Linked DNA regions of Homo sapiens: region 1 is linked to region 2. Evidence: fine-mapped expression QTL. A gene starts in region 2. The other region holds a variant in brackets. All regions are shown on one strand. Distances are from middle to middle.

Region 1 (2,990 bases), 36 kb after region 2:
TTTTAACAATTTATTTTCTGAATTCAGTCTATCAAGCAATTAGCTTAGATGGCTATAAAACTGTGTGAGCTTGTGAACCTATAAGTTTAGAGACACTTATGATTCACGATTAGTCTTGAAAATTTTTTATATAAAAATAGTCCCAGTAAATCACTAAGTCAAAATGGACGAACTGGTTCGATGTGTGTGTATGTGTATGTCTAGGTACACAGCTGTGTGTGTGTCTAGGTGTGTAGCTGTGTGTGTGTCCACACACATTTTGAAAATCAACAGGTTAGCAGAAACAGGATGACGAAGGAAGAATGAGAAAAAGAGATAGTTATAAAGAGTCACTGATAATAAGCAAAACATTCTTAGGATATGTGGGTGTATGTAATCAGTGGCCTTTTTGTACAAATACATCTTTTTTGACATATTAGCTTCCATCGACATCAACCGAAGCTGATTTCAGAATGTCAAGGAGAACTAGTGAGAAGTAAAAGTGACTGTAAAAGTAGTGGAAGTAGAAGCAGTGAAGATGTAGAGAAGTTTGTGAAAGAAGTAAAATAGACGTAGATGGTCATCACATTTAAATAAAGGTTAGTCATGCACTTTGAACAGACACTGGTTAAAGATATTTAGGAAAATAGAATGGATTTTAAATTTTAATTGGGGAAGCTGATTGTAAAGAAGAAGGAGTAAAAGCAAATACCAGAATAAAAACACTAGAGAGGGAAACTATTTCGTTATTAGTTTCAGCTATCTCCGAATGTGTGTTTAGGTTTCAACTTCAGCAGGAGACATCAAATTTATTCAGAAGAAGAGCTAAATTGATGATGGCATATCAATTCAAAAGCTATGCTTTTTGAAGCTTTTTGGGAAAGACATTCTCCTGTGTGCTGTCTTTTCACTCCCACTGGGCCACATAAGAATGGGCATGGAACCCTTCCTTACCAGTAGGTAAGGGGGCCCACACAGGAAGTACTGGGCTTATGGCCTTATGTGGGAATATCTTTTGCTGTTTCAGAATCAACGTGTAGTTCTTTGTTCTGCTTAAGTGGGTGTTTCAATAGTCCTCAGACATGTCCTCTCCCCACAATTTTTTTTCAGATACCATAGAGGAGAGGTCGAGGTCCTTCCACTGAAGCACCAAGTGGGGTATATAAAGCCACACTGCCCATGAGGGCTGTGGTGTGAGTCTGCTAGCCGTGAGAGACAGATGCATTACAAAGGGATGGATTTAGTGCACTCTTTCCTCTCTTACTGTGAGTAGATGCTGCACTTCTTGAACCTGGTGGGAGTGTGTGTTGTCTGTTCTCAGAGACCTTGAATCATACACAGTTTTTTTTTCACCCCCGGGTGACATTTACCTCCTTTTAACATTGGCTACACTCGTGTAATATTCTGTCCTGCAGCACAGCCTGAACAGCCAGTGAACAATGAAACAAAACTTCTTCCCAAGCCTCAATGAGGATTGTGCCATAGTTTGAAGGTAGGAGAATTTCAAGCCATTAATCGTCTATGAATACTGAATACCAGTGAGAATGGCTCCTTCAGGTCTATCAGCTTATTGCTGCTTCTGTGTTATTCTTAGGCCAAAGAACAATGGTCAATCCAGCAATCAACTCATTTTGGCTGATTTGTGCCTTTAGTCCAGGCTTCTCAGTTG[T/G]ACCACACAGCCGTTCTTCTCTTCAATTTCAGGGTCATTCCTTCAGGAATTCTGTCAGGAATAAGCAGCAAGTTTCCTACTGCTCTGGGTCCTCCTTAGACCCTTCTTATTTCATGTTCAGAGGAATGAACTCCACATCCTGTCCTAAACTCCACCTTCCTTCTATTATTTTTTCATATTTGACATTGATACTCATTGAAACTAGAATCTGAATTATTACCACCAAAGATATTACCTTTTTTTTTGCACCGGAGAGCTTAATCTTTAAAATGTTCTGTGAGAGATGGGAATGGTGTACTATCTTTCTAGTGTGGCAAAAGAAGAGAGAGTAACAAAATAATTGTGTTCATATTAAGATTATTTGAATATAAATATTTTGCCAAATTTGTATTTAGGTGTCCATGTTATTTTTAATAATTGGATTGATATAAGTAGATCTTAAGAAATATCAAAAAAAACCGTTTTGTCAAATTGGAGTCAAGGAGGCATGGAAATTCTCTTCATTTGCAGTACTCCTAAATTCCTGCTTATTCTGTGGTTGAATTTATATCAACAAAGAGAATTGGAGATTAAGGCAATTAATCAGAAATTTTAATTAAAAAAGGAATGGAAAAAATAAGTAAAATTTCCTATAGAATTCTAGGGTTTGACATCTACACAGATATATTCATTAGGTAGAATAATAAGTCTTTTCTTTGCTCTTATGAAAATATTGTTCTCTAATTGTCAATGAGCATAAAGTAAAATGAAGATAGATTATACAAATATCCTTATTGATTAAAAGTTTAAAATTGCCAGTGCCCAAGAAATATGCCTGAATTCAAGGATATCTTATTGCAAAGAATATCTTACTGCAGTTTGTTTTTTTTCCTTACTGTAAATAAAGGGTCAACCAACAGCTAATAACTCACAACTGCATCTTTTCTTGTTAGAACATGTCGCCCAGCACTTTTTGATTAGATGTTCTCAGATAATAGCTGGGGCAGATTGACCAAAGGAGAGCAATTTTTTTTTTAATCAGGATAACATAATGATTCCATCACAAACTTTAGAAAGGGCTATGGATATCACCAATTTTCTTTTTTTGTCTATTATTAGTGCTGTATCTTTAGTGGAATTGAAGACATGACCTTCTGCAGGTTTCAATACAACTTTATAAAAGGCTGTAACAATGCCTTTAAAATCAAATCTATTAACTGTTCTACAGAGAAGCCAGTTTTCTAGTAACTTGGCCATAACTTAAAGACAGGGACCCTGAAAACACCAAGCATCTGCCTGCAATCTGAATTATCTCCCTGACTAGATTCAGTAATCTTGGCTCTTCCCTGCATTTAAGTCATTT
Region 2 (2,837 bases):
GCGGCGTGCGGGAGCGTCTCTCTCGCCGTCGACCAATCGGAGGGGCCGGGCCCACCCACCCCCGCCCCGCCCGCCGGCTGCCGCCCCCTCGGGCGCTCGCCTCCCCCTCTCCGCGGGCCTCGGACCCCGAGGCCGCGCGGAGCCGCGTAGGGATACGCCGGCGGGAGCACGCGGTGCCGCAGCCCTTCCCTGCGCCCCCGCCACCCCCTCCACCCCGCCGGCTCCGCTCCACCGAAATTCCCCTCCTAGGGCCAATAGCTCACATTTCCGGCTTCCTCCTCATTGTACTGGGTCATTTTCGTTTAAGCGTCAATATTTGTCCTTAGTGATTAAAGTTTGTATCCAATTTTATTTTTGAAAGCGGGGGTGGTGGTGGTAGTGGGAAGAGTGGGAGTGCAGGGAGAGGATGCGAGAGGGCAGGAAATGGAGGAGGTAGAGGCGAGGCACTACTTTTCCGAGTCGGCCTTGCAGGCCAGTGTCTGGCATTTCTGAGCCAGCAGGAAAATTGTGCCCTTTGTAGGTAATAGTCTAGCGCAGCTTTGGATAAGGGGGGAGATAAGGCCCACCGCTGGCGTGTGTGCGGGGGTGTCCTTTACTTCGGGGGAGGAGGGTGTGGGAGAGCTTTGGGAGCGATGAGATGAGGAGGAGGAAGTGGGCAGAGGAGCGCGGGGCCAAACAGGGGTTACTTACTCGATTCCTGAGGCCTGGGCGGCGGCGAGCTCCGGGCTCCGGCACCGCGGGGAAACCGGGACTGGGGCTCCGGGTGCTGCTGCGGCGGCCGGGGCCGCTCAGTAGTGGGCGCCTCTGATGGCCTTCCGAAATGAGAGGTGCCCAGAGAGAAAACAGTACCAAACAATCTCGAAATAAATCAGGTAACACATGCTATATACGTGTGTCTCTTCCTTTTCCTTCTCTCCTGCTCCAGAGCGTCGCTCACGCGCGGGGTGACTCGATGTCGTTTTCTCCTCGCCGCTCCAGCCTCAGCTTCTAATCCGAATTGGAAGCGGGTAGCTGCGAGCGATCACCCTGGAAATATTTTCGTTTTGCTTGTTGACATTGGAGGGAAAATAAGGGTGGGCGTCTATTTCTTTCCGGTTTTTTTTTTAAGCCTTCCTATTTTCACTCCTTTTTTTTCCTTTCCGTTTCTCAAATGCTTTTATTTTGTGCGGGCCTCATTCCTGAAATAACAGTATACTGAAGCCAGCTCTTGCCAACCCTGAGTGCTGCTGGAAAGCACCGGGGAGCCTTGGGAACGTGGATCTCACAGTCCCAGCTTCTTGGGCTTTGGAACTGGGAAGGTTCGGTTGGAGGTTGAAGTGAATGGGGAAATTGCGAATCGGGGGCTTTAAAAGGATCCCGTGGCCAGGGGCAGGGCTAAGGCCCAGCATTTCCCAGGGATTGGAATTTAGTGGGGAGCACATTGATCAAAGGCTGTTTCATCCCACATGGGCACGAAACATACCACATTTTACGGAGGATGTAGCCCCAGAGAAGAGGGAGGTGGAGAAGCATAAATGAAAGGCACCTTTTCCTTCCTCTAGAAGGTAAATAATTATAAAATGTAAGCATTTCTTCACTTGGATAAACTTTCATTAAGATATCTGGCAGATTTGGTATTTAAGAAAACGAAGGAAGGAAAATTGGTGCTTATGCTTGATCCTAAAGTTAAATTGTAACATAAAGAATGCGGTTGATGAATACTCAGGATAATAGGGGGTTATTCCATCCTCCCCACCCCCAGTCTTAAGAAAGAGAAAGAGAGAAAAGGTTGGGGGGGGGGGAGGAAACTGGAGAGAATAATAGATAATTACAAATAGCTAGTGAATTTTAAATATGCATCTATTAGGAATGCCACAAAGGAGCTTTGAATATTGGACTAACCTCAAATGTCCTTCCACTGTATGTATGTATCTTTACCTATGTCTACATATCTTCTCACTTTAAAACAAACTGTATTTACATGTGGAAAAATTCAAGGGTTCCAACAATCAGTGTTGATAGTGACATGGTCCCAAACATTTATTTCCAAGCTCTGGATTTCTCGCAGGGCCGGGTGAGCTAATGGGCTTTGCCTACCGGCTGGAGAGATTTGTGGGCCTTCCCCTTCCTACTCACTTTTCCTCCTCCCACTCTTCTCCCCTCTTCAGGCCCGTTCTTCCTACTTTTCCTCAACTCTCCTTCCTCCCTCCTCCCTCCTTCTCCCTTAGCTCCCCCCGCCCCTTCCCCCCACCCTCCATTCCTCTGTCTCTCCATTCCTCCACCTACTCCTCCCAATTTCTCCTCTTACAGCCCCCCTTCTCACCACCACTTATAATGGCACACAGGGCTCCCTCTGAGGTGGACGGCCCGGTACGTTTTCGTAGTCGGTCTAGCGTGAAATGATTCGGTGTAACCGGATTCTTGGGAAAGGACAGGTTACGTAAACATTTACTGATGTGGAGTAACTATACTATTTGTACTCTGATATGCAGGAAGGAAAGTGTTGATTAACACAGAAGAAAAAAAAAACGAAATTAGCTGATTGCATGCTCATAAGTGCAAGCTGTCATTGAACTGCTTTTAAAATAGACACAGCTGGGTGTTTGTGTTGAAAAATTTCTTGTGTTTTTGCTAATACTGAAATAAGCATGATTTTGTATACCAAACATTTTCAGATCATTAAAATTTGTAATCTGTGCTGGTTTTAAACACAAAGAAAAGAAACAGAATCATTTCGATGTAAAATTTGCTGATATTATATTAACTCAATCAGGTCTGTACAAATTGTGCATTGTGCCTCCTAAAATCTGTTTGATCAATTTAATACACAAAGTGCCAAACGTGGGTATTGTTTGTTA

Direction of the effects. Positions count from the first base shown, and alleles are read on the strand shown. Sizes are in standard deviations (SD) of each study's normalised expression.
In carriers of allele T in region 1, the expression in cerebral cortex of the gene that starts at base 1,385 in region 2 tends to be lower than with G alone (moderate effect, 0.43 SD a copy in GTEx).

The links. PIP is the estimated chance that this variant, and not a neighbour inherited with it, causes the effect.
Region 1: its variant is fine-mapped to the expression of FOXG1-AS1 in cerebral cortex (GTEx, PIP 0.98).

The regions. Positions count from the first base shown.
Region 1 is chr14:28,727,656-28,730,645 of GRCh38, reverse strand. It overlaps FOXG1-AS1 (FOXG1 antisense RNA 1), which reads left to right. Exons shown (of 7, transcript NR_125758.1): 5 at 1,090-1,244; 6 at 1,395-1,471. Among named protein-coding and RNA genes, the nearest start is that of FOXG1-AS1, 36 kb to the left of the region's middle. The variant T/G (reference allele first, on the strand shown) is at 1,649.
Region 2 is chr14:28,763,867-28,766,703 of GRCh38, reverse strand. It overlaps FOXG1-AS1 (FOXG1 antisense RNA 1), which reads left to right and starts at 1,385. Exons shown (of 7, transcript NR_125758.1): 1 at 1,385-1,544. RefSeq lists an enhancer at 262-786.